Homo sapiens: one gene and its partners. The protein of the gene in region 3 interacts with the protein of the main gene of each other region in a pairwise test. Each region holds a gene or a part of one and is shown on either strand. Other genes may lie near its edges. The genes, in order: RAP2A, S100A9, FKBP2 and ATXN1.

What was found.
Region 1: the proteins of FKBP2 (region 3) and RAP2A interact in a two-hybrid assay, tested with the Homo sapiens proteins (one study listed by BioGRID and IntAct).
Region 2: the proteins of FKBP2 (region 3) and S100A9 interact in a two-hybrid assay, tested with the Homo sapiens proteins (one study listed by IntAct).
Region 4: the proteins of FKBP2 (region 3) and ATXN1 interact in binary tests that used the Homo sapiens proteins (3 or more experiments, as listed by UniProt).

What each region holds. Positions count from the first base shown.
Region 1 is NC_000013.11:97,458,169-97,465,192, reverse strand, and holds part of RAP2A (ras-related protein Rap-2a), read right to left. Parts: intron 989-7,024; coding exon 751-988; 3' UTR 1-750. UniProt on the Homo sapiens protein: Small GTP-binding protein which cycles between a GDP-bound inactive and a GTP-bound active form. In its active form interacts with and regulates several effectors including MAP4K4, MINK1 and TNIK.
Region 2 is NC_000001.11:153,353,475-153,360,867, reverse strand, and holds the start of S100A9 (protein S100-A9), read right to left. Parts: upstream 3,015-7,393; 5' UTR 2,987-3,014; intron 2,600-2,986; 5' UTR 2,585-2,599; coding exon 2,435-2,584; intron 225-2,434; coding exon 30-224; 3' UTR 1-29. UniProt on the Homo sapiens protein: S100A9 is a calcium- and zinc-binding protein which plays a prominent role in the regulation of inflammatory processes and immune response.
Region 3 is NC_000011.10:64,237,289-64,244,118, reverse strand, and holds the start of FKBP2 (peptidyl-prolyl cis-trans isomerase FKBP2 isoform 1 precursor), read right to left. Parts: upstream 3,025-6,830; 5' UTR 2,987-3,024; exon of another isoform or gene 2,840-2,986; coding exon of another isoform or gene 2,042-2,839; exon of another isoform or gene 1,906-2,041; intron 1,763-1,905; exon of another isoform or gene 1,736-1,762; coding exon of another isoform or gene 1,732-1,735; coding exon 1,561-1,731; intron 921-1,560; coding exon 808-920; intron 669-807; coding exon 622-668; intron 279-621; coding exon 243-278; intron 152-242; coding exon 90-151; 3' UTR 1-89. Other genes in the region: uncharacterized protein LOC114841035, read right to left, coding at 2,042-2,839; VEGFB (vascular endothelial growth factor B isoform VEGFB-186 precursor), read right to left, coding at 6,486-6,699. UniProt on the Homo sapiens protein: PPIases accelerate the folding of proteins. It catalyzes the cis-trans isomerization of proline imidic peptide bonds in oligopeptides.
Region 4 is NC_000006.12:16,303,446-16,310,469, forward strand, and holds part of ATXN1 (ataxin-1), read right to left. Parts: intron 3,415-7,024; coding exon 2,884-3,414; 3' UTR 1-2,883. UniProt on the Homo sapiens protein: Chromatin-binding factor that repress Notch signaling in the absence of Notch intracellular domain by acting as a CBF1 corepressor. Binds to the HEY promoter and might assist, along with NCOR2, RBPJ-mediated repression. Binds RNA in vitro.

The DNA of each region.
Region 1 (7,024 bases), on a different chromosome or scaffold from region 3:
GTTTGGGGTTTTAATTCTGATCAAACCCTTGTGAAAGCCTCCATTTTCTGTGGCAAAGCAGGTGAATTAACAAATTCTAAAGCCAGACTATATTTTTACATAACCTGTTCTGAGTTTTGCTCTATCAAGGATTGAAGCATGAGTTAGTTCCATGTCACAAATTAGAATAACAGCTACAATTAAGCATCAATTTTGAAAAACAGAAATGTGTTAGCTGAGCAAAGAATCTCCCTGTAATGCTGTTGGCAGGTCAGCTGTTATTATCTTACTTGACGGAATACATTGGTTAGAAGCTCTATCCCATTTCCTGAAATTCAGTACTCTTGTAGGAAAATATTTCTCCTTTACTTATTTTTTTAAAGAAGACAAAATATTTTAATTGTAAGTGGTCAGAGGAATTCTTCTGGTTTCTCCCTTATGGTTATTTTTAATTTGTACAATAGTTGCTTCTGTCAACTCAGCGACAATGCCATCATAGCTTTCAAATGAGATCACCCTGTAGATCGATGGACTATGCCTTAAAGTTGCAGATGCATAAAGGAGACTGAGGACAAATGGTGAAAACTGTAGTTACTGAACCCAAATGTTACTCAGAGATATCAACTGACAATCACTGCTCAATTCTGAATAAGGGCTGCAGTTCTCTGTAGATTAACACCACGCATTCTGCAAGTTCTGCAGTGGAGTAGGCGAGTTTTCTATCACCTACGACATTGGGCAAATCCCATCCAGGACAGCCATATTTGGATGCTATTGTATGTTACATGCAGAACAGCATGGGTCATCTTTGTCAGGCTGAGCAGCATAGTTCATCTGCCTCACAATTTCTGCAAAGAGTTCGTCCACCATTGTTTTACTCTTAGCGGAAGTTTCCATAAAGGGGCAGCCCCACTCTTCAGCAAGGGCTCTGCCTTCGCTGGACGATACTTCTCTCTCACTTTCCAGGTCCACTTTGTTCCCAACCAAGATGACTGGCACTTTCTCATACCTATGAGAGAATAAACAAAACACACATACATTGTAACAGTTAGCACAAAGTTAAACAGGTCACGTGTATTTTCGTTTTTGGGGGCTATTCCAACATAAATGGTATCTTCAGTTGCATGAAAATGATTTGTACCACTTGGCTTGATACTTAGATCTGAGGGCATTTGAAGCTGCTCTCACAGTGGATGATAAAATGAGTTTTATGAAATGATGTTTTAATTAATCAATTATATATCCTTTAAAATCAATTTACCTTTCCAGATATACTTGGAAAATTATTCTCAGAAACTCAGACTAAATCCTCTTTTTTTTCCATTCTGAGAGAGGGTTGCACAAAATTTCACAGTTGATCACACAGTAAATAGCTACAATGAGTAAACAAACAACTTATAATTATCAGCATTTTACTATGTTCTATGTGTATAAAATTGATCATGTTCATACAAAAATCAGCTGGGTGTGGTGGCAGGTGCCTGTAGTTCCAGCTACTCGGGAGGCTGAGACAGGAGAATCGCTTGAACCTGGGAGGCAGAGGTTGCAGTGAGCTGAGATCGTGCCACCGCACTCCAGCTTGAAAAAATGATCATGTTCGTTCTAATAGTTCTCAAACAAGAAAAAAGGTAGTAGAAATCATCCAAATGGAAGCTATCAAATACAACCACACCCCATCCCTTCAGAAAACTTTTATGGATTAGTCAGTTCAAAGAGAAACAATTAGGATTCTTTTAAGACTGACAAGAATTCAGCCTCAATTAGCTTTAATTGGTGTTATTTCTCTTTTTCTTCCTAACTAAAATAGGTATCTCTGAGTAAACACGTTTGGAAAAAGCTAAACTAATAAAAATAGTAAGTGATAAGAAAGAACAAAGAAAGAAGCTCCTAAGTCATTTTGGTGCCTAAGATGATTGTCTCTACAATGGTTACTCCATGTAGCACATTTCACAACAGATGTCAACACTGGTGCTGGACTGCACATTTATTTACTATTCTTCTTTATGTTTGTTCTAAGAAAGATAGCTAATATATTTTCACAAGACATTTTAAAAGGTTTTTGTGATTTTAGTATAAATCTGTGTGTGTGTGTGTTTGTGTGTGTGTGTCTTCCCATAAGCAGAATGTATTTCTGATTTAAAGGAGCTAAACAGCAAGATCGCACAAAAGTGATAACAAATGTGACTGGAAACAGCTAAATCTGTCAGAAGAGAAAACCACCCCATGGTCAAGCCTTTGAGGCAGGATGCATAGACAATTTTTATCATTCAGGAAACTGGATAATAGGCAGGTGGTTATTGTTCGCTATGATACTTCCACAGATTTCTTCATCCTGTCAAGAGGGTTCTCTCCACTCATCCTAACTTGTAAAGCAAACCAAATTCCCAACATTCTCACTTTTTTTCTTTGACACTATATCAAACTAAGAATGGTCTCAACAAGAGGGCATACTCCAGGTAGTGTGCCATTTGGCAATGTGAAACATGAAAACAACTTAAAAATGAGTGGAAGGAACAACATCAAAGGCAAACCTAGAATTTGGATATTATCATTTTATAGGAAATGAATTTGGACAACTTCAATTTATATCAAAGGACTTTATATAAATTTACTGTACACTACTGTACCTTACGATTTCGGGCCTTAGATCATGCTGACAGCTCTGAACATAAGACACAAGGGTTTTTAACATCTTCTAGGACTCTTACATACAAACAATTTGTGCATCCCATGGCCTCTAGGAGGGCAAGTGGCAGTGAGAATAAAGCTGCATTACAAAACACCATGTATTTGCTACTTTGCATATAAACTCTCTTGATTGGCTATACAGAGAAGCTTGGCAGGGAGCAGACACTGCCAGCCATGTCAGGACAATGTCAGCTTCCAATTTGTGTTACTTGCAAAATGTAATTACATTTCGTTTTTCTTATGAAAGTATATACATCACAGTGTACTTTAAAATGCTTTGCTTGACAGTGGAGTAACTTAAAAACATTAATAAAATTAAGTAAAACATTGGTTGAATTTAAGTTAAAACAAATTTCAGTCTGTCTATGAATAATAAAAAGTGATAAGATCACTTTCTATTAGTTGAGATAAATGATAAATATTTTAAAGAATGTTTAAATACAATATATATAATATATAAATATATATATAAATATATATATAAATATATATAAATATATAAATATCTATATAAATATATAAATATAAATATATAAATATATATATATATATATTTTTTTTTTGAGACGGAGTCTCGCTCTGTCTCCCAGGCTGGAGTGCAGTGGCATGATCTTTGCTCACTGCAAGCTCCGCCTCCCGGGTTCACGCCATTCTCTTGCCTCAGTCTCCTGAGTACCTGGGACTACAGGCGCCCACCACCACGCCCGACTAATTTTTTGTATATTTAGTAGAGACAGGGTTTCATCGTGTTAGCTAGGATGGTCTCGATCTCCTGACCTCGTGATCCGCCCGCCTCAGCCTCCCAAAGTGCTGGGATTACAGGCGTGAGCCACCGCACCCAGCCTGTATCATGTTTTATATGTGAAATATTTCTTACACTTTTAGTTAAGTTCAGGATCTACTAGAATATGTGGATTTTCAAAACTTGCAAATAAATCAAATTATTAAGTTGTATTGATACATTATTAAAATCAAGAATTTGAATAAATCTTACCATCAACCTAATTCTCAAAACAGTAAATAAAATATTGCAAACACAGTTCCACATATAACAGCATTTAATAACTGGTAAATGTAGATGAAAATGCAGTCAGTATCAGAGGACCTGTTTATTATATCACTAACTTGTCAGTGGCCTTTTCTAAAATCAAGTTTCTAAAGACACTAGAGAAATCCACATTAATATCCTCAGAAGATTTTTAAACTGAGTACGATGTTGAGAAAAATTATGTACATTTCAGAATACCAGACGGTGATAAATTTTGTCTCTCTGTTAAAATTTGGGACAGTAGAAAAGATTCTACACCCAGATTTGGAGGCTCTGCTTCCAGTTCTGCCAATGAGATCATTTCCTTTACATATCTGTATTTCATTTCTTTGATAGTAAAAAGGGAGTAAGAGTATCTGTTCCCACTTAACACAGGGTTGCTGTAAAGGGCAAATGAGATAATGCTGAAAAAAATGAAGTACTAGATAAAAGGAGGGTGCTTGCTTCTTTCCCCTCCTAACTCTAGTGATGTGGCCTTGAGAAGCCACAAAGGGTGAAGAAGGAGCCGGAGAAACTGATCAAAGGAGGTAAAGAACTCCTGAGGGCAAACCGAGTTGAGGGTGAAGCTGGAGGAAGAGACAGGCAAAAAAGATGGGAGTCAAAAACAACAAAGCAGCCACCAGACACTAACCAGGTGCTTCTCCAGAGTCCCTGTGCTGAACATCCATGGTGATGGGGGCCTAGGAAAGCAGAAAAGCAAGCATTCCCAAACAGCGGGCACTCGAGAGAATATACTGGCCCCTGTGGGAAAGGCATTCTAAGAAGGCTCTGGATTGGGGTGACAGAATAGGGTCCCATATGAAGGTAACATTTGGAGAAATCTGGATCCTCCTTAAGAAAGATGGGTGAGACGCTGAAGGGAAAGAAGCCAAGACCTGTGTTGACAGTAGATGACTGCACTGCATGAGGAAGCTGGTGTTGCTATCTGTTTTAGCAATATGGTGGGTTTAAAAAAAAAAGAAACCAAACAGACTAGGACTCCTGTCCCAGAAGGGGCTGCCTCTAGCTAGTACTGTGAATTTAGAAGATTAACCTAATCTTGGTTTCCTGAGTTTCTTGAAGTATAAAATGAGCTGGACTGGATAATTCCTAAGATACTCTGAAGTTAAAAATCACAACAGACATGGTGGGTCACACCCACAGTCAACACATATCATTGACTAGGTTAATTGCTGAGTGCTTAGCACTGTTCTAAGAATAACGTCCAACAGGCTGATCTTTAAGAGATATGAAAGTGTGCATCAGGAGTAAAGCCAAAAATGTTGGGGGAAATCTTATGAGATCTCATGGGGCCAAAACATAAGCAGGAGGTTTCACTTCTACAAGCGGAGCCACTACTGCCAGCATGCTCTGACTCAACAGCAGAACTCCAAAATGCACTCATGACCTAGGCAGTTCCATTTCACAGACAACGTTGTTCAAACACAAATATTTGGGATGGTTTTAACTACGTGAATACTGAAGGCTATACTGAAAACTGCCTGATGTGGCATAAATAGCTAGTAATGAACAATCGAACAATCAATACATCATGTACTTATCCATCCACTCAACACATATTTATATACTAAGTGCTAGCCACTATTCTAGACACTTACATCAATGGACAAAGCAAATAAAGCTCTGTAATTAGCAGAGGGCGCAGACATCAACAATAAACATAACAAGTCAATTCTGGGTTTACAATAAAAGTGTTAAGTGCAATGGAAAAAAAGATGTGGATCAGGTGGTGGGTGGGGAGCACAGGTGCCACAGTTTTAAATAAGATGATCCCAGGCCTTGTTGGGAAAGTGGCTGTGAACAAAGATGGGAAGGGTTTCTGGGAATCTGCTCCCTACCGTGCAGGTTCTAGGGGAAGAGCATTCTAAGCAGGACATGCCCTAGACAATGCCTGAGCCGGCGACAGCATGCCTGTCAGTGCAGGGACCAGCTGTGGGATCCATCTCTACAGCCTCCTGCAGGACTCTGGCAGTGGAGGAAATGCTCATTTGAAGCTAGACCTCAGGAATTCGGGTGCCAAAAGTGGCCTCAGAAAACAAATCTGGCACTTATGACAGACTGACTTAGAGGGCTGACTCTGTTATTTAGGAAGATGAGGTGCTTTGTTAGTGGGTGATGACAGTTACTTTCATGTTCTATTTTCATTATCAGTTTTGCAGGTTGCCTTCATTTTCCCCCTTTTCATCATTTCCCCCTTTTCATCATTTCTTCCTTACCCCCTTTTCATCATTTGGACATAAAGCTAAAGATGCAAAATTCTCAAACTGTTCAATGTATGTGTTATTGTTAACCTGATCATGAGTAAGATACCACCTTGCTTACATCTTAAACATCAGCAGATATCTCACCAACTTCAGCCCATCTTCCTTGAAATTTCCTTTAAGGGCATGACCAGCTCAGACGGTGACTGATGCAGGTCTAATAATTTTATTTCTGTGTGTAGTCTGTGGACAAACACTTTTTTATTGACAAGAATTTCCATAGTGTTGACTGTATTCATGAACCTGATTATAAATGTATAAATAAATAAAACTAGTTCTTTTAAGCAGCTCTGCTTAATGGACTGAATGAAACATCAGAAATACTGGCTGTAGCATCACTTAGCTGTAGAATGTTAATGGGCTTCTCACCGAGACAGCTTTTTAAAATATCAGTAACTCAAAAGAACTTGATGTGTTTATCAAAATACTTTATTTTGCTTTCTCCTTTCTTGTAACTGTCCTGATATGTAGGTATGTATACGTATATATATTTTATTCTGGTCGTGTCTGAACTTGGCTGATCATCAACACAACTTGAGAATTCTTTTAAAGATAGTGATTTCTGGGCCCTATTCCAGAGCTAGTTAATCTAAATCTGTGGGATCAGGACCCAAGAGTCTATTAAAATATGTAATATGTCTATATCTATAAGCTCTGAAGATGGATTCTGAAGTTCAGCAGGGTTTAGGAATCACTGGCCTAATCTACTACTTTGTGACCCCAAACAACATTCTATGTGTATAGTTCATGGTTCCATATGCGGCAAGTCCAGACTCAATTCCTTCTTCCCTTCATTTATTCACCAATGATAAACTGTAGACAGATACCACTACTGTCAGTTTCTGTACTTTACTTTTGAGGGTGCTGCATCGTAGCGTATTTAAAGAAGGTCATACTTCATGTGAATTTTAACATGCTGGTATCTTCTTAGTGATAAGCAGGTTGAAATATAATTCTCTTTGAATTTGGAAATGAGAATCAGAAAGGCTTTTCTAAGTCCCCTCATTCATCTTTTCACACAGTTAAAATCATCTACCAAGAGAGTCCC
Region 2 (7,393 bases), on a different chromosome or scaffold from region 3:
TGGCCACTGTGATCTTGGCCACTGTGGTCTTAGGGGGTGCCCTCCCCGAGGCCTGGCTTATGGTGGTGGCCAGGGCCCTCGTCACCCTCGTGCATCTTCTCGTGGGAGGCCCAGGTTAGCCTCGCCATCAGCATGATGAACTCCTCGAAGCTCAGCTGCTTGTCTGCATTTGTGTCCAGGTCCTCCATGATGTGTTCTATGACCTTTTCATTCTTATTCTCCTTCTGCGGGTGGGGAGAGAAGGCTGTGAGAGCTGGGTGTGGCCAGAGGTGGGGACTGGGAGCACAGTAAATGACCAGCTGGCAAATGTACAAGGGAAGCCTCACCCTGGGGCTGGATTTAAAAATTAAAAATGACCATAGGCTGAGTGCGCACAATGGAGCAGACACTGAGCACATACCAAACGCTCTCCAGTTTATTCCCTCCATGACCCTGTGACTTGGGTGCTGATTCTCTATTTATAGAAGAGGAAGCTGAGTTCCAGGGTCTTGCCCTGGTCATGGCATGAGTAAGCCTGGAAATGTCACCTCATTTGGTCCTTATAACAACTTTAACAGCTAGGAATGGTATCTTCCTGGAGGAAGACTTGAAACCAGTCCTAGAGAGGGTCATTAGTTTTCACAGCTTGACTATTGAGGGCATGCAAATTCAGATCTGACTTAGAGGCCAGTTCCACTCTGCTACCCCTCTGCACTTCACTCCTTCCCCTGCCCTCCCTTCCCTTCCCTCTGGAGGTTACCAATTAGTGAAACTTATTTCAACCAATACAACGGGGAAACACCTAGAAAAACTAGGTGTGGGCAGGGGAGATGGAGGGTCAGAGAGCAGAGTATGTGCTCCGCTGACCTCAAGGGTGTGATAAAGTATAAAAGGGGAGATGGTCGGACAGGGTGGCTCATGCTTGTAATCCCAGCACTTTGGGAGGCCGAGGCAGGCAGATCACCTAAGGTCAAGAGTTCGAGACCAGCCTGACCAACATGGAGAAACCTTGTCTCTACAAAAAATAACAAAATTAGCCAGGCATGGTGGTGCATGCCTGTAATCCCAGCTATTCTGGAGGCTGAAGCAGGAGAATCGCTTGAACCCAGGAGGTGGAGGTTGTGGTGAGCCGAGATTGTGCCGTTGCACTCCAGCCTGGGCAATAAGAGCGAAACTCTGTCTCAAAAAAAAAAAAAAAAAAAAAAAAAGGAGAGACATCAGGGGAGGTGGAAGACCCAGACCCAGGCGGGGTCCAAGAGAGCACTGGTTGGTTCCAGCTCTGCCACCCTCTGGCTGAGTCACCTCGCTAAGTCCCCTCCCAGAACCTGTGGGGTACCCAGCCAATGCGAGCACTCTCCTGTGCAGCCCATCCATGAGGCTCTGCTTCCTTTCCCACAGCATCGCTTTGCTTCTGGTGGGGGATGTCAGGTGGGGGGTGAAGCGGGCATAGGGGGTCACATGGAGGATAGTTTTGCCATGCGGCCTCTCTGCTGGGCCCTTTCTTGCCTACCCCACCCAGCATCCTGCCTGCCTGAGGCCTCCACCTATGGAGAGCTGTCAGGGCCCCTAACTCTGAAGGCTGCAATTCTCCACCTTACCAAGGCGGAGGGAGGGGCACTGGGAGGGCTGGGGACCTACCCCAGGATGTCTGGCTCCGGGACTGGAACTGAGACTGAGACCCATGTGTTCCACCCTTCTTAATGCAGGCCTCTGTTTCCCGACTTTCCCCAAATTTGAAAAGAAAACAAAAAGGCTGTTGGAAGTGCTCAGCCTTTTTCTTAGAACTGCCTAATCATTTTTGGAGCGGGGGAAAAACCTCCCAGTTCCCTGAGTGCTGTGCAGGTGCTCTCCATGTGCTCTTTATGCATTCATTTTCCACCGCAGACCCTTAGGATTAGAAAAGCCCCCAAGTCTTCCACCCCAAGTTCCCGCCTGAGGCTTAGGGTCTCCTCAGCTTTGTGCCAAGTGTCATCCTCAGGGGCTTCCCTCCCCAACATTCGGGGCTCAGCTCAAATGTTACCTCCTCAAAGAGGCCCTTCTCATGTACCCTAACTGGTCACCTCCACCCCACCCAGCCCCATTGCCCACAGCGCACTCTATCTCATTTTCTTCCAGGCACTTATTGGCATTTGGCTTTATCTGTGCTCTTTATTGGCCAACAACTTTACTGTGTGTCTCCCTCCACTGGAATAGTGGGCTCCCCATTTACCACTACATCCCTCTGCCCAGAACAGGGCCCGACAAATAGCAGGTGTTCAATTGAGCAATTTCTTGACCCTGTCGTCCTGTGTAACTGTGAGCACCTGCCCTGTATAACAGGACACTCGCTGCGTCTTGGGGCTGGGCTCCAGGAGCTCAAATCTTCCCCTTGATTGCTGTAGCCCATACTCCCATCCTCCCTTGTCAACCCAAACTGCGGTGAGGCTGGGTCAGACCTGCCAGAGTCCAGCCCTACCTTGAGAAAATTTTGCAGATCTTTTCGCACCAGCTCTTTGAATTCCCCCTGGTTCAGGGTGTCTGGGTGCCCCAGCTTCACAGAGTATTGGTGGAAGGTGTTGATGATGGTCTCTATGTTGCGTTCCAGCTGCGACATTTTGCAAGTCATCGTCTTGCACTCTGTCTGTGTAATGGAAAACCAAGAGTTGGGACACTTAGAAGAAAATGCTGTCAAGCTTCTTTGACACTTCCTACTAAGCACTCACAGAAATAGTGGGGGAAGTGCAAAATAAAAAGAAAGCACAGGCTGCAACTTAACTGGGAGATGGCCTGTCACACACATGTACAAAATGATTTTTTAGAATATCTACAGAGTGCCAAAAAGCAAAGCATTTGAGGGCAGGAGGCCCCAGGGGAACATGACCTAAGAAAATGTGAAAGAAGCTTTAAAGTAGGCAGGGCCAACCAAGGAGGGCTTCTAGGAGGAGGATTTGGAAGGAAGTTGGGTCAGGGAAGGAAAGAAGGAATCGGCAGGCAGGCTTCTGCCTGGGGAAGCTGGCAGCTCACTTACCAAAGCCGAGGAGCCACACAGAGTGTTTGCCAGAGCTGTGCAGGCTCGGCATTTATAGGCAGCTCCTGACTGGGGCACTTGGCCCTTTGGCCCTGTCTCCGGAAGATTGCTTCACAGGTGAGCAGTGTGGTAATGCTGCCAGGAAGGGGGCTGGGGCGGGGCAGGAAATGTTCACAGAGCGCCTTCTGCTTTTTTGTGAAATTCCCAGCCCTGGCCTGAAACTGGTTTGGGAGGAAGCTGGTTGTTTAGTTCATTTCCCTTCTATCCTAAGGCCCTACTCTCCCCGAGCGAGCCTGCTGCTCCTCTGGCACCACTCAGCCCCCCATCCCCTTTGAGGTTGAAGCAGGCTGAGGACCTATGGGGGCCTGACCCTCTCGGCTGCCCCCCATGGGCAGTCTGCCCCTTCCTTTTAGTCCAACAAGGATGGTCTGAGCTCTCACCCATGCTTGCCTGGCTCTGTGATACTTAGGATGGCGAGGGGTTGGTGTTCTTAGATTCATAGGGTGAGATTTGGGGTTAGAAGGGTTCTCAGAGGTGGGCAACCCTCTTGCATTGTAGATGAAGAAACTGACACCCGGAGATGGACCTGAGCAAGGTCACATAGCTGGTTGCTGACTTGGCAGGAAGGGGACCCAGCTATTCTGGTTCCTGGTTAAGGGCAATTCTGATGATACCTTCCTCTTGCAGTCTGAGTGAGAGAGCCTCAGGGCGAATATGTTTCTAGCATCTCTCAGCATCATTTTTCTAAATCCTGCTCCCAGCAAGGGTTCCAGGAACTTATAACTTGGGAGACAACTGTTTTTACTTAGCCTCCTGGTGGGCAAGATGTGTCCTTCTCCTGCTACGAACCTCCAGTTGCTCCCCATTGCCTATGGAGAAAGCTTGGCTTAGCCCTGCGCACAAAGCCCTCTTGGAATGGCCCTGCCTGTCCGGCCAGCTTCCCTTTCACTACCTCCCTGCCCACTGTGGGAACACAGGGCCCACCTCCCACCTTGCCACCCCAGGAGTGCCCTTCCCCTACTCCACAGTGATATCCTGCCCGCCCCCACGGCTCAGTTCTAATGCACTCTCTTCCAAGGAGACTGCTCTGTGCTTCCCATTTGGAAACAGTTTCTGTCTTCCTGACTATGATTCTCATACCACTTCTGGCTCTCAACACTTGCTTTCCTGGAGTAAAATTATATACATATTTTGCCTCTGTCCAACAATTGGCTGTAGATCCTCAAAGGTAGGTTCTCATTCATGTTCTCCTTCTCCTATGCACACAGCCCGGGGCTTGGCAAGAGAGACACCCTCGGATTTGCTGATTGATCCTTGCTGAAGTCCTTGCTGGCATCCTTTCCCGTCACCCCTGGAAGCCAGTATGGATGATCCACCCTGGGACTCCCTCTTGCTTGCTGCCCCCTCTCTCTATCAGGAAAGATGGTTCTCTTCTTCTACCTGCACTGGTTATTTTGTTCTGTCTCCATGAAGCCTTCCTTTATTGCCCCAGCCCCTCCTGACTGCTTTGTCCTCTGAAAGCCTGAGGCAATCTCTGTGTGTGCTAAGCATTGGCCCTAAGCATGGCCTGCCTCACACTGCTGAGATGCACCTGGAGTAGTGGTTAAGACTTCAGACTGTCTGTGTGACCTTAGGCAGTTTACTTAACTTCTCTGTGCCTTACTTTTCTTATCAATAAAATAGGATAATATCAGGACTTACCTTGAGGATTGCGACAATACATGGAAAGTTGGGAAGAGCTCAGTAAATAAAAGGTATTATTACTAATAATCTTTTCATTCATTTATGCAACAAATATTTGTTGAGCACCTACTGAGTGCCAGATATGAATGCTAGATGCTGGGAGAACTTGATGAGTGAGTCGCAATACAAAGGGGAGACATAATCTTATATCCTGTCTTCCAAATTACGTTTTAAACTCTTGGTAGCTAAGGACAGGGCTTGGCACAGTGCTAAGCACACAGCAAGCATCTAATAAATAAATGAGTGCTTGAATACATGAGTCGCCTACGAATGAATGAACGGTGCAGACACAGCTCAGGAATACATGAGGTAGATTTCCTATCCAAGTCCACCTTCCATTGTTTAAGCTAATAGAGGAAACCCAGCCAGCAGCCAGCAGCCAGCAGCCAGCAGCCAACCCTGTGTGCCAGTGCAGCCTGTTCTGCAGTCCCTGCACAGCCCCAGGCGCCCTTCCTGTGTGCTCCCATGGCGCCCTCTGCTGCCTCTGACAAAGCACTTCTCACTCAGGACCAAGGATCTCCAACTCACCCTTGCGGGAACCAGACCCAAGGTGAAGCTGGTGGGGCATGAGAACATCAACGGCAGCAGTAGGGCAACTTGTGGCCACTGATATGGGGCCTCAGGGTTGGGGACACTGGACAGTGGTGGCAACTGTGGGGAATGAGAACGTTCCTACCTTGAAGGGACAGCCAGTGTCAGGCCAGGGCTGCCACGTGGGAAAGTAGACCAGATGTTCTTGGACCTCCTGAGGGCCCAGGACATCTGAAGCTTTATATGAAAATTCCTGTTTAATACAATTTGTCCATTAATTTAAAATAAAAACAAAAAAAGCATGACAATGAAGCAGGGTGTGTGTGACTCAAACCCTGAGTGATGGTGTGCGGCAGGCATCTCTGCTTTGTCATGGAGCTCTCAACTTTCAGGTGGACTTTCTGATTCCTCCACACCACTGTGGCTCCTCTAGGCAGGGATGCTGCCTGCTACCCTCCAAAGTCTTAGCACCAGGCAAGGGCTGGCTCAGAGGCACTGGATGAACGCTTGTTGATTGAATAAATTCAGGAGTGCATGAATCAATGATGAAATGAGTGAATGTGACATAAACACTGGCCTGTCACCCTCTGTTCTGTGACTTTCTGCAGAGCCACTGACTGTGGTCATTTAGTGCTGATTCAGAATGAAAGTAAAATAGGGAGTTGGGGGAGAGAAGGCTCAGCAGTGGGTGGGAATGAGCAGCTGGTCAGGGTTTCAAAACAGACGGGAATCTGCACTTGGGGGATCTGATGCTGACAGTGGGCCCCCATCTTAGAAGGCCACTGCAGGCCCCCAGGTTCCAGGCTAGCCCAGGCGCAGGTGAGGCCAGGGCTGAGCCATTCTGGTTCTGACCGGAGCAGACAATTCCTGGCATGATCAGTAGGTGGCCGACACCCACCTGCCTCCTCACTGCCAGCCGAGGCCAGAGGTTGGACTGAGGGATGGTGGGATGGGGGTCTTCCCCTCTGGGTACTGATTTTCCAGGGAAAGTCGGAGCCTTCTGCTAGGGCATGAAGTGGGTGGGCCAATTTTCCTGGCTCTGTACAATGACTCGAGGTTTTCACTGGGAGAAAAGGGTGTGGCTTTTTGGGTTAAAAAACAAATAAGTGGCCGGGCACGGTGGCTCACGCCTGTAATCCCAGCACTTTGGGAGCACGAGGCGGGTGGATCACAAGGTCAGGAGTTCGAGACTAGCATGGCCAACATGGTGAAACCTCCATCTTTACTAAAGATACAAAAAATTAGCCGGGTGTGGTGGTGCGCACCTGTAATCCCAGCTACTCAGGAGGCTGAGGTAGGAGAACCGCTTGAACCTGGGAGGCAGAGGTTGCAGTGAGCCAAGATCGCGCCATTGCACTCTGGCCTGGGTGGCAGGGTGAGACTCCATTTCAAACAAACAAACAACCAAGCAAGTAAACAAACAAGCAGGCAGAGGTTCCTGCAGCTACCATCAAATCACTGTGCTCTTTCCCAGATGCCTGGGACCCACTGCGGGTCTGTCTTTCCCTTCTCTGCAGCTCCCACTGTGGTCTTTCAGGGAGCTTTACCCCTCCTGTGTTGTAATGGGGGTGTTACAGCAGGCACACAGTGGGACCCGGACTGAGGGACTGAGCTGGTTTTAGTCCTTAGCTTTCTCAGACTTGCTGGTGGTCTTTAGAAGTGATTTCCATGTTCGGGCCTCCATTTTCTTATCCATTACATGAGGAGATTGGGACAGCTGACCCTTAGGTCATTTCTAGCACAGATTCCAAGTTTTGATGGACTCTTGGTGGGCTTCATGACTACTACTAGCCTCATGGCCCCTGGACACTGTCTCCTGGCTTACTTGCTCCACCTGCAGGTGAAGTCAGGTCCCTCTCCTCACAGGGACTCTGATGCCTGAGGCCCAGCCCCACTCAGGCTGCGCACAGCCTGCTGCCTATTCCTCCACTCCCTGTCTTCCTCCTTGCTGGGAGTCCCAAGTGCTCTTCCTTGGAGATCTCTGGGTACGGGTCTCCTAACCACAAGCGCCCTAACATCCCCCATTTCCCCAGTGCTCATTCTAGACTCTAGTGCATTAGGATGACTTACAGAAGCTATCCACGGGTAGCTTCAGACCATTGTTCTACCACGTTTGGGCTCAGTCCACATCAA
Region 3 (6,830 bases):
GTTTTTTTGTTTGTTTTTGTTTTTTGTTTTTTTTTTGGAACAGTCTGGTCCCTGATGGGGGCCTCTCCCCCTGCCCCTCCCCAGTCTGGTTACAGCTCAGTTCGTCGCTCTATTTTGAGCAGCTCCACCTCGAACACCAGGGTTGCACCACCTGTAGGGGAGAAGGGGAGTCAAAATGCCAACCAGGGCCACAGGGAGGTGGGCTGGCTGCAGGTGATGGGAGGTATCAAAAGGTTTACTACCTGGAATCTTTGGGGGAGCTCCCCGCTCTCCATACCCTGTTGAAGATGCACAAAGAAACAGTCAGTGATGGCCAAGCTCCCTTCCAGTGTGGGCAAAGGGAGAGTGTTCCGCCCCTCTCAGCAAGAAGGCCAGAAATGGAGAAGGGTAATGGAGATGGGAAGGGGGTGCCAAAGGCCTGGCAAGGGCAGAGTGGGGCCACTACAGCTGAGTGCTTCAATGATCTTGCCCTGTACTCACTGCTAGACACAGCCAAACTTGGAGGAGGCATGTATTGTAATGAATGGATACGGTGAAGACCAATGAAAAGCTGAAGCAGCTTTCACCCTTCCCAGTCACACACCCCAAACTCGCTCTGCACCCTCAGGAGGGGCCTCTTACCTAGCTCGGATGGGATCACCAGCTTGCGCTTTTCCCCCTCACACATCCTGCAGGAAGACACATGCTCAGCCCATGGCAGCACCCAGGGCCCTTGTCTTGTATCCCTGGGGCTTGCCTCCCACAGCTTACCTCCTGGGCGGTGGCCATGCACGCCCCCACTCCCAAGCCCATTCCCCCATGACTCACCCCAGCAGCCCCTGGTCCCAGCCCTTGATGACCTGGCCTGTGCCAAGGGAGAAGACAAAGGGCTGGTTCTGGGGCAGGCTGCTGTCAAACTCTGTCCCATCTTCCAGCTTCCCCTGTGGAACCATGAGAAGGCCAGTGAGGAAGAGGGGACCACCCCTGACACCCCCTCCCTCAGCTGCTTTCCCCATCAAGCTGCCCCCCCACGCCCACCCACAGCCCTGGTGGTCAGTCCTTTTTGTTTTTTGAGATGGAGTCTCTGTTGCCATGGCTGGAGTGCAGCGGCGTGATCTCGCCTCCCTGCAGCCTCTGCCTCCCGGGTTCAAGCAATTCTTCCACCTCAGCCTCCCAAGTAGCTGGGATTATAGGCGCCCGCCACCACGCCTGGCTAATTTTGTATTTTTAGCAGAGAAAGTTTCATCATGAGGCCAAACTGGTCTCAAATTCCTGACCTCAGGTGATCCACCCGCCTCGGCCTCCCAAAGTGCTGGGATTACAGGGGTGAGCCACTGCGCCCAGCTGGTCATAGTTCTTTAAGAGGACAGAGCCTTGGGCAGCTCACAGTACACTGTCACTGCCTGCTGGTGCCCACCTGGGCAGTAGGCAAGGGCAAGGCAGAACCATGGAAACTGGCTTAGAGGCGAGAGGGGACTTGCCCAAGGTCACCTACCTGGCTTATGGAGAACCAGACTCCCAAGCACTCTCTGGTCCTCGGAAGCCCCACCCACTCCCAAAAGGCCCGCCCAACCCACTCACCGTGTAGTGCATGTGCAGGACATCCCCTTTGCGCGATTTGATGGGACAGTGGTCCACCCGCTTCTTGACCCCGATCTGCAGCTTCCTTTTGCCCTCGGCCCCCGTGGCCGTGGCCACGGCGCTCAGGCAGATGGACAGTACTGTCAGGACCCGGAACCAGCTCAGCCTCATGTCTCTGTGGGCACAGACCCCGACCGACCGACTGAACGTGGGGGAGGGCAGGGAGAGTATGGAACACGGGTAGGTAACAGGAGGGTTCCACCGCCACTGTATCTTCCTTGCCCCGGGGGATCCCCTTTGTCCCGGGTCACCGCCCTCTCCCCCGGGCTCCGGGGCCACACTTACCAGTCCAGTGAGAAGGGGGCTTGGCCGAGGACCCCAGCAGCGGGGGGAGGGGGTCAGGGGAGGCCACAGCAGCCAGGGACCCGCCCCTTTGCTCACCCCCATACCTTCCCTCCCTCCCAGTCCCCACCTCCGCTCTTCAGTTCCCGCCTGTCCCTTTACGCAAAGTCCAGACCCTATCTGGCTGCACTGCAGTTGCCCCGACTGGGCGGCCCCACTCACGCCACACCCAGCTGCCCCCGGTCCAGCACACCAACACCTCTGCGGCCGCTGCAGGGGGCCGGCCCCGAGGCACCCACACATCCCCACTGGGTGGCTCCGAGGAGCCCGGGTCCTCGGGAGATACCCCCCAGCCTGGCCCTGTGCTTCCGCCCGGGGCGCCGCCCCAACTCTGAGCCCTTGGGGGTCTCCGGGGCACCCAGACTGGCCCTGTGTCTGCTGGCCGCCGAGCCCGCTCCACCCACACCACCTCTCCCGGTGGAGTTCTCGGCCTACGGCGTCCCCAAGCCCGGCCACCACGGAGACCACCCCCGCGAGGACGCCCGGGGCCATTACTCGGGCCAGGCTCCTCACTTGGCTCCTTGGCACCGCCCTTCGGAGGACGCGGTACCGCCCCCGGGCCTGCAGCCCCGCCTTCGACAGAACTAGACCCCTTTTCCGGAGCCGTAGCCACGCCACTCACCGGCTGAAGCCCCGCCCCCAGCGCCTCCGCTCCGTCCCCCTCTGCTTCCGACCCCGAGGCTCCGCCTTTCACCTCCTCCAGCTCCTCCTTCAAGAGCCAGGCTCCGTCCCCCGACCCTCCTAGCTCCGCCCCCCGCCGCCGGGCTCCGCCTTCCACTGGCACCAGCTCGGAGGTCCCACCCGTCCCGGTTCCACGTCCCGCCCCGAGTCCCAGGACTCCGCCCCGTGCGGCGTGAGAACCCTCCCCCTGCGGCATCTCCGGACAGCTCCGGCCCCCACCCCCAATTTCCTCGTCACCTAGCTCTCGTTGACACTCGGAGCCCGGTCCGCTTCTGCCCGGCCTGATCCAGCCTGCCCTCTTGCACCCCGGCTCCCCCCAGCCCGGGCTGTGGCCCCCGCTCACCTCCTCGCCGCGCCCCCGGAGTCAACCCCGGTGGTGCTGCCGCCTCTGCGCAGGCGCGTCCTCGTCGCTACCAGGCCGGGCCACGCCGCCCTCCCTTATTGGACCGTGCGAAACCCGCGGCCACACGCCCGCTGGCACGGGTCTTTCCCGAGCCCCGCCCCCGCGACGCCGCTGCCCTGCGTCACTTCCGGCGGAGCGGTAGTCTGTAAGGTTAGGTGAAAGTGACTTCCGAAAAGGCCGGAGACACTTCCGGCCGAGGTGATAGTAAGGTCAGGCGGGCGTGGGTTCCCGGAGGGGGTCTTGAGGCGCCATTTCAAGTCGCCCCCAGCCTCTCCCACAGCACTCCTGTTTTCCCGGGCCTCATCATGGCCCACGGCCCTCAGTCGCTGTGGAGCCTGGGCTTCACAGTGACACTCACGTTTGAACTCCCGGTCGGCTGTGTGCTTGGTAGAATTTGTCATCCAATACAGGCGTGTAACACGGGCTTGATGACACCCACCCCACAGGGCCCCTGCAGGACCGAGATGATGTCCAATGACAAGCCCTGGCTTCCAGCCAATGCTCCTGCCCACATCTCTCTCCCAGGAGCCAGGCTTACCTCTACCTGTGCACCTGGGCTGTGACTCATGACTGGAATGATCTGGCTGGGCCTGTTCCCCCACCAGACTTATTTTCAGGCGCCCCAGCAGCCACCAAACATCTGTCAACTGAAGTAATGAACCTGCAGTTGAGAGGCAGCTAAACCTAGGTTGAAGGTTAGGGAGACAGCTGAGTTGAGGTCAAATCCCCCCGGCCAGTTAGCCTTTCTGAGCCTATTTCCTCAATTGTAAAAGGAAGACAATCATGATGCTGACCTCAGAATCGAGCGAGGAGAAAGTGAGGAGGTGCATGTGAAGCATTGTGCGTGACTGGTGGGGCTAACTGGGCTCTGGAGGCGGTAGCTCTGGGGCCCTAACCCCTTTCTGCCTCATGCTAATTGACCTATGGCATGTCCAGTGACATCATGACTGAGAAAATGATTTGAAAGTAGTAATCGCTGTCAGGAATTGTCTCCTGGTTCAACCCACTCCTGCCTTAGGCCCACTAAGATCATACCCACATGCTCTGACCCAACACCTCAGAGAAAGCCTCCATTAGGGTGGCTGCCCCTCCCAGTGGCTGCCCAATTGAGTTAACTCTGCCCCTGAATGTCCTGCTTCAGCAGGCAAAGCAGTGGTGCCCAAGGTTGGCCTTTCATCCACCCCAAACCACTCAGCCCTGGGCACTGGAGGCTGCAGGGAGAAGGGTAGGGGCTGGGCTTGGGCTAGGATAGACAAGTCAGGAGAATCTCAGGCAGCAACTGATGATGAAGGAAGCTGCAGGATGCAAGGGAGGCGAGGGTGGAGAAAACTGTGTGGGTTGGGCGGGCGCGGTGGCTCACGCCTCTAATCTCAGCACTTTGGGAGGCTGAGGCAGGTGGTTCACCCAAGGTCAGGAGTTCGAGACCAGCCTGGCCAACATGGTGAAACCCGTCTCTACTAAAAATGCAAAAATTAGCTGGGCATGGTGGTGGGCACCTGTAATCCTAGCTACTTGGGAGACTGAGGCAGGAGAATCGCTTGAACCCAGGAGATGGAGGTTGCAGTGAGTGGAGATTGTGCCATTGCACTCCAGCCTGGGTGACAGAGTGAGACTCTGTCCAAAAACAAAAAAAAAAACAAAAAACTGTGGGTTGGGTTGAGGGGAGCCTGCCGCCCAAACCAGGCCCACCAGCCCCAGACTTGCGGTGCTTCCCTTTCAGGGAGGTGGGAGTGAAGTTAAGACAGGGCAGGTGCTGAGGCTTTAGATTCAAGCTGCAGGGAACAAAAAGCAGCAGATGCTGAAAGCGCTGCCTGGCAGGAAGAACAAGTGTTCTTTTCTATTACGTAAAGATAGTCTCAAACTTCTCTGGGGCCCGAGGACGCCAACCACAGCAATCTTCTGTTCCCTCTATGTGCACATGTGGAAACTGCTGCTCAGAGAGGCAGGGGTAGTGACAAGCAAGGTCACTCAGTAGATCTGGGTCCTACCCCAAGCTCTCTGGCCACAGAAGGCTGTCTCCTTCTAGAAAAGAACCCTGGTGAAGAGCAGGAGGGCAGGCAGTCTGTATTGACTGGGCTATCCCTGACTCCCATGCGTGGCAATAACTTGAAAGTGATGAATACATAATTCTGGCCCTGCCTGGGATCTGCTGTGGGGCCTTAGTCCTCATTTCCTCCATCTGCACAATGAGGGAGCAAGACAAGCTCTGGATTTAGTGATGCAGACATTCATGCCCAAACCAGCCAGCCTGGACAGTGACAAACAGTGACACAGGCAGGGACAGCTCCTTCCATCTCTTTTATCAGGGTTGGGGGTCACAGTTCTTGTACCAAAGCCCAAATCCCATTATGCAGAGGTTTGGGTCTTCTTAGTGAGGGGAGGAAGAGCCAGTTGTAAGATGCTTACTTGCACAGAGTGGTTAGAAACTGAGACAGTACTCCATTCTCCCCTGAGCTGGTATGTGACCCCTCTTGCTGCCTCCCAGTCTCCTCTTCCAACTCTGTCCTGTTTGATGATGGCCTCAGGGAGACAAGGGATGGCAGAAGAGCCCTCTGAGAGGCCCAGGTCCTAGAGCAGCTTCTGCCTGGGCTGAGGTCTTGGGGGCTTGGCTGTTTTTTACCAGGCTCCTCTTTGTTCCCCCACTGGGATATAGCCTCTGAGGCAAGTCACCCTGCTGAGTCTGAAAAGCCATGTGTCACCTTCGCAGCTTCCGGCACCTGAGGAGGGAGGAAGTGATCTGTTCATGCTGGCTGGAGCGCAGCCCCAGCCCTGGACTCATGTGTGCCTCGGGCCCACTAAGATCACAACCTGAGCATCCTGCCACACCACTCGGCCCTGGGCACTGGAGGCTGCAGGGCGAAGGATGAACCTTTTGCAAAGGTCATCCCCTCCTGACACTCCTCGGGAGCCCCCACTGGCCCTGCCCATATGATTTCACCCCATGGCCTCACTGCGGGACACGGATGGTGAGAAACACATCAGGTAAGGGTGGACAAGGGTTCCACTATGTCCCCTGGCCTCTTGAAGCCCGTAGGTAAGGGCAGATGTCTACCACAGGGGCTTCTGGGAAGGCCCGAACTGCAAGCTGGAAAAGCTGTGTCCTACATTTCTACTCCGGGCAGATGTCACCTCCTCCAAGAGATCTCTGACCTCTGAAAGACGAGGCCAGGTACCCCTCACCACAGCCCTTGACATCCTCTGCTGGCATTGTCCCTCCTGTATCTGACTCCTGAGTTAGAATGTTGGACTTGCTTATACAGCTCCAGGTGCCAGCAGCTGTTTGGTAAATATTTGTTCAACACATTCAACAGTTTCCCCTTCCCTGGCCCTCCTCCTACTGGCAGGCTCACCCTGGACCTGCTCCAGGACAGGGCCTTGGTGCCTTCCCAAACAAACACCACCCCACAGACGCCTCACCTGCAGGTGTCTGGGTTGAGCTCTAAGCCCCGCCCTTGGCAACGGAGGAAGCTGCGGCGTCGGCAGCGGCAGCGGCAGGTCCGGGGGTCAGGGCGCTGGTGGTGCTGGGTGCAGCGTGGGCAGAGGGGCCTGGGGCTGGAGTGGGATGGGTGATGTCAGCTGGGGAGGGTGCTCCGGGGGCAGAGTCCCAGCCCGGAACAGAACGGGGCTGGGGACGGTGGTGGGGAGTGGCAGCCCTAGGGAGGAGAAGCGACATGTCTGGGGTGGGAAGGAAGAGTCTTCCCTAGAGCTGGGGTCGGGGCAGAGAACACAGGCTTGGGGAGCAGAGGAAAAGGGAAAGTGGGGGACGGGTGGGAGGAGAAAGAGG
Region 4 (7,024 bases), on a different chromosome or scaffold from region 3:
CTCTGGCCAGAATGGGGAAGATCAACCAAACAAGGAAAAAGCCAAAAGGGAATGAGCTTTAACTATATAGCACACTGGTCAGACTCTATTGGCACAGAAAGTATTGCACATGCTAAAAAAGCAAGAGAATGAAATGGGACAAGTGTTTAGAAAGAACCAATTATTTTATAATTCCTATACCTGAAATAGAACCACAAAAATTATGATGATGTTCCTATTGCTCCAAACCATGTGTGTTTTCCCATCTTAGTGTTGGTTTAGTGGATCCAGTCAATTCAATACTCGAAGTAAGCCAAAAGGTGGTGTGTGTTTTTCTGAGTCCACATGAGTTGTAAATAGTGATATTAATGAGAACAAAGTCTATGTGGCAGCCCGTATTCCTCTTACCATCAAAGGCTAAAAAACAAAAAGAAAAACAAAACCTAATAATTGCAAGTGCCCTGAGCAGAATATATGGAAGATTAAGCAAGTTCTCTGAACAGAAACGTTTAAAAAATACAGCACTAAATAAGCAGTATGACTGCAAGAATGAGCCCACCCAGCTCTCTGCAAGCATGCTGAGAGGGTAATGAAATTCGAGGAAAGTCAAGGAACTATTCTAGCTATTCTAAACCTATTCAAATGTTTTTGGTACACCCCAGAAAACGGTTTATAAAAATCATTAGTCCTGGTGAACCCTAAATGTAAATGAATACTAGACAGCCAAAATGTGGGTTGATACCAGATTTTTTTTTTAATTTGTGAAACGAAGAAAGTACTATTTTCAATGGGGTAAAAGAAAAGTCAGGTATTTGTTCAGTTTAGTTGCAGCCATCCAAGTAAGAATATTTAAAAATTTCTCCCTACTTATAAAACTTTTTTTTAAAGCACTTTAAAGATGCATTCAAAACCCACAAATGATATTTCGGATCTCTGGGAATGAAAGGTTTAAAAACTATGAAATACCCTTTCTGGGTTTGTACCAAACATTAAATCTCGATTTGATTTTGAATAGAAAAAAAAAAGCCATTCTGAAAATAACATTAATAACAACAATAATAAAGTAATTGTTTAAAAAAAATCTTGCTCACATATATAAATGTCTTTATGGAAAACTCTCTCAATGAATCTGAAGAAAATTCTCAGAGTTTCTAAGAGCCCGCTAAGACCTGGCTTTTTGTGACAGATGTGGTAAAAAGACCAAAATGAATTTTCAAAGGAACATAACCTTATAAAATGGCCTAGAGTTTAGGCAGGTTAGAAAGAAATTTTGCTACATTTATTTATGCTCGTTCAGTCCCCCAAACCTTTCCCACAATGTTATTGGATAAAAACTGCAGGAATATCACACAAGTTATAAACTCAATATGTGCAAATCGCAAGGTTCTTTAAAAGTTCATCTTAAAAAGAAAAACACTGGACAAAAATGAGTATTCTCTTCTCCATCCCTTTTCTCTCAGTTTCTCTGCCAACTCTGCATATGCCTTGAACTGATTCTCAGACATCAAAGTGAAAAGTGCCTCCCGTCAGGTAGTACTTGGTGGTCATTTATTGTCACATACTAGTTCATAATTCACATTCATCCCTTTAAACCACATTGAAACTTTCAATATCTTGCTCTTCAGCAATTCTGCAGAGCTGAAATGTAGTTACAGTGTTGAAAAAAAGAAAGCAACTTAGTTTTTTTTGTTTTTGTTTTTTCCCCAAAGAGTTTAAAGTGAGATACAGTACTTGTTGAATGAGAGACCAAGATGCTTGGTAATAAAGTGTGAACAGTATTTTTAAATGCTTAAAGATAGTAATATATGCTCATCTTCAAAATCTAATTCCTCATGTCACACTGGAATCTGAAAAAAAAAAAAAGTGGCACCCGAGTTGTCCATAGTCATGAACTATAAACAGTACTAGAGTTCAAAGACAAAAAGATTTCGCAAACTCAACGTGAAGAGCTTCTGTTGCTCTCACTGAAGGGCAGTTTGCATCTACCTCTTGGGAGTGAAGTCAATGCAATAACCTGATTGGTTTTCCTAACACTGCACAGAAACCAGCGTGGGTGTTCGCTCTCTCCCTCTCCCCCACCCCCAACCCCCCTTACCCCATGTGGGGCCATGACAGCAGGGGCTTCCCTGTCCACCACAACACCCTGGTGACATCGCTGCACTAGTAAAAAGCAGAAATGAAATCCCGCATGTGGCAGTTGCTCTTTAAAAAAAATATATATCAGTGCAGTCAGGCCCCATAGGGGGAAATATATATCTATACAATTAAAAGTTGCTTTTATTGTAAAATATGTTGGAGAGAAAAATGTTCTTTTAAATGGTTAACTTTCCAAATCTGCCATCTGACGCGTCTCCGCGATGCCCTGAAGCTGGGTTCCTGATGTTGATTTTGCACGTGGGAACCCCAGGAGGACACTGCTCTGAACCCCCCCGGCCCATGCCGATAGCAAGAGAGTGAGGCAGAGGGAGGCAGAGAAAAAGAGACCCTCACTCGCCGCCACAGCGCCTGTGCACCCCCACATGCGTGCAACCCTGCACCCCTGCAGGACCCTTCCCACGGGACTTTTCTCCTGACACTAGCGGGAGTCAGCGCCCCCGGCTGCTTCTGTGCCGCTAGAGAAGGCAGGCACTGTGAAGCCCCGTTCCTTTCTTCCCCGGGGATGCCTGGAGCCCTGACCGCTCCTGCTGTGCCCTTCCTCCCGCCCGCTCACTGACAGACACTCGTGGAAAAAGCATATGCACCAGTCTCCTGCGACACACCTGCTGTAACTCTAATGACAAGGTTAGAACAGAAACCTAAAATTAAGAAGATAACATGTAAATACTGTGTTATTTTAGCCTACAGTACAGTAATCTGGATACAAATGATAAGGGAGAGCCACGTTTCCTTTCCCCCACGCTGCCTCTACTTGCCTACATTAGACCGGCCTTCAATGCAAATCTTAACCTCCTGAGGAATTAGAGAAGGCTTAGGAAGAGTCAAAGGTGGTTCGTCTTCTGACTTCTCCAGTTTGCGGCTCTCTGGCGCCGACCACCTCCTCTTCCTCGTTGCCGCGGGCTTGCTGGGTTCTATTTTGGTGAGGAAGGGCGCTGCAGGCAATCCCATTTTCTCTGGAAACTTCAGTTCGCCATTCTCAGAGAGCATCTGGGCACTCCCCTGGTTGATTCCGTTTTCCTGCTCGGCATACCTGTGTCTGCTGCCCGCCAGGCCGTCGGCCTTTGAGTGCTTCAGCAGGACGCTGGCGGGATCCACGGGCTGGCCCTTTTTAACAGAGCCGTTCTTCAGGTTCTTGAGGGTAAGCGAGATGCAGACATCCCCAACTGAGAGTTTGGAACACGGCAAATCAAAGAGCTGGCTGGTTCTCTCCGGACAGCAGGATGACCAGCCCTGTCCAAACACAAAAAAAGGATACTCTACCAAAACTTCAACGCTGACCTGTGGAAACAGGGAGAGACAGAGAGAGGAAGAAGGAAGGGAACAAATGAAAACATTTTATTCTTGTTTGATTTTATGCACACACACAGGTATGAACTCACACAGACACACACAGGCTGAATGGGGGAAAATGACTCAGTTTGCAAACCTCCCTCTCCCCCAGCCACACACTATAAATGAGGCTCTTCTCTTTGGGTTGTACCTCTACTTGCCATAGGCAGAAGCCAGTGAAAAGGTCATCAATATTCAAAATATTCCATCAAGTGTTAGCTCTATAGCTGGTCTCTGTTAGAACCAGTCAATCGAACCCCAGTAATGACAGAGCACCCACTTAGCTTTCAGCACCAAGCTAGGCTCTGCAGGTGGCTCACAAGCCCAGCGCGGTCTTAGATTTTATGAGCTCAATGGACAACTGCTATTATCATACAGGACAGGACTAAACATGGATCAGAGTGAGACTGTGAGTTCCAAGAAGCAGGCACAGTGTGTTTATCACTGAGTCCCCAGCCCCTAAAAGGATGCTTGGTGGCTGGGCACAGTGGCTCATGCCTGTAATCCCAGCACTTTGGGACACCAAGGTGGGTGGATCATTTGAGGTCAGGAGTTCAAGACCAGCCTGGCCAACATGGGGAAACCCCGTCTCCACTAAAAATAAAAAAAAAAAATTAGCCATGCGTGGTGGCGGGCACCTGTAATCCCAGCTACTTGGGAGGCTGAAACACTAGAATCACTTGAACCCAGGAGGCAGATGTTGCAGCGAGCCGAGATCGTGCCACTGGGCGATCCAGCCTGGGCCACAGAGTGAGACTCCGTCTCAAAAAAAAAAAAAAAAAGTCAATTTCCAATGTCCTTTCTAGATGTAGTAGACTAGGTAATTTGGACCAACCCTCCTTCTGAGGACAACTAAAAACTCTGAACAAAAATATAAGCAAACAAATAAATTTAAAAACTCTGGACAAAATGTTTAAACTTTTTTTCTTATAGTACTGGACAGCAAATAAGATAGTAAAAAGGCCAGGCGCGGTGGCTCATGCCTGTAATCCCAGCACTTTGGGAGGCCAAGGCGCGTGGATCACCTGAGGTCAGGAGTTTGAGACCAGCCTGGCTACCATGGCAAAACCCCATCTCTACTAAAAATACAAAACTTAGCCAGGTGTGGTGGTGGGCCCCTATAATCCCAGCTACTCAGGAGGCTGAGGCAGGAGAATCGTTTGAGTCCGGGGGACGAAGGTTGCAGTGAGCCAAGATCGTGCCACTTTACTCTGAGACCAGCCTGGCCAGCATGGTGAAACCCTGTCCCTACTAAAAATACAAAAATTAGCCAGGTGTGGTGGCAGGCGCCTATAATCCCAGCTACTCAGGAGGCTGAGGCAAGAGAATCGCTTGAACCCGGGAGGCGGAGGCTGCAGTGAACCGAGATCATGCCACTTCACTCCAGCCTGGGCGACAGAGTGAAACTCCGTCACACACACACACACACACACACACACACACACACACACACACACACTTCCTGGGTTGGATCAGGAAAAGATGATGGCCCAGAGAGGTGAAGCTGGTGTTGGGGGCCTGTTTTCTCCTGAAGGCACTTGAACATTCCAAAGTGGAGCAGTTGGGAAACCAAGTGGGCTTTTGATAGTGTTAAGAGCATAGGGAACAGGTAATGGAGTTCAGGATACACCAAGGGAGGGTGTTCTCTGGTGAGCCCCATTCTTTTGAGTTGTGACCCCAAAGCACTGTCCCTTAGAGGAGACAGTGAACCACAAGCCAACAGGCCTTTCAAGGTCTGAAGCTCAGATTGACTCATCTGAGTCCCTAAAACTGGATTAAGGTCTTGAATTACTTTCACAATTTTGCAAATAAAAGCATTCAATTTAAAAAAGGGGGGTGGTGGTCATGAGGAGACCAGATAGCTTGTATAAGCACTAGCAAAATATCAGATCTTAAAAAAGGATGCACCAGGGCTTCTCATATAGAGTCATACATATAGACTTTACAAAGACTATGCTTACAATAATTAAGAAGATTAAAGACAGCTTGAGAATTTTGATAGGAAACTAGAATCTGTTTTTAAAAGATCCATGAAGCCAGGCATGGTGGCTCATGCCTGTAATCTCAGTACTTTGGGAGGCTGAGACAGGGAGGATCACTTGAGGCCAGGAGTTTCAGACCAGTCTGGGCAACAAAATGAGACCCCGTTTCTACAGAAATTTAAAAAAAAATAGCCTAGTGTGGTGATGCGTGCCTGTAGTCCCAACTACTCAGGAGGCTGAGGCAGGAGGATCTTGAGCCCAGGAGTTAGAGGTTGCAGTGAGCTATGATCACAAGACTGCACTCCAGCCTGGACAACAGAGTGAGACTCTGTCTCTAAAAAAAAAAAAAATAAATAATAATAATAATAATAATTAATTAATTAAAAAAGGTCTATGAGAATTGTAGAATTAAAATATACACCACTGAAATCAAGAATGCAATGAGCTTTCCAGTTGAATAGACATGGATTAAGAAAGAATTCAGGAACTGGATTCTCTAATTAGAGCTTTAGAAGAGACTCCACAGAGTGAACATAGAGACAAAAAGATGGTCAATATGGAGGAGAGGGTAAGAGACACATAGGATACATTGAGAGGGGCTAACAGACACATAATTTGAATCCTAGGAGGAGGAAGAGAGGGAGATAATAGGGCAGAAGTTAATACTTGAGGAGGTAATGGCTAAGAATTTTCCCAAACTGAAGAAGGATAATAAGACAGTTTCAAGAAGGCCTAGCCCCAAACAGGAAAAATAAACAAAAAGAAATCCTCACTGAGGCAGATGAGAATTAAACTGCTATAAATCAAAGACATCTTGTAAACTAAACAGGAAAAAATATCGTTAAAAGCCTCTAGAACAGGCTGGGTGTGGTGGCTCCTGCCTGTAATCCCAGCACTTTGGGAGGCCGAGGTGGGTGGATTACCTGAGGTCAGGAGTTTGAGACCAGTCTGGCCAACATGGTGAAACCCCATCTCTACTAAAAATGCAAAAATTAGCTGGGCATGGTGGCAGGAACCTGTAATCCCAGCTACTCGGGGGGCTGAGGCAGGAGAATCACTTGAACCCGGGAGGCGGAGGTTGCAGTGAGCCAAGATCGTTGCAGTGAGCCAAGATCGTTGCAGTGAGCCAAGATCATTCCATCACACTCTAGACTGGGCGACAATAGAGAAACTCCATTAAAAAAAAAAAGCCTCTAGAACAAAATACATATTATCTCCAAATAAGCAACAATGGAACTCACAGTTTACATCTCAACAAAAATAATGGAAGCCAGTAGACAATGGAGACAATGGAATATCTTTACAGTGCTAAAGAAAAAGAATTGTCAATGGCGAATTCTATATGGAGCAAAAAGATCCTTCCAGAATGAAGGCAAAATAGAGACATGTTCAGACAAACAGTAATTAAAAGAATTCACCATCAACAGATCTGCATTATAGAAAATACTAAAAGGTATTCTTTAGGTAGAGAAAAAACAAATCTAGATTGAAGTTTGTACAGGGAGGAATGAAGAGGAATGAAAATGGTAGATACATGGTGAATCTGAATGAATATTGGCTATATGTAACAATATTTA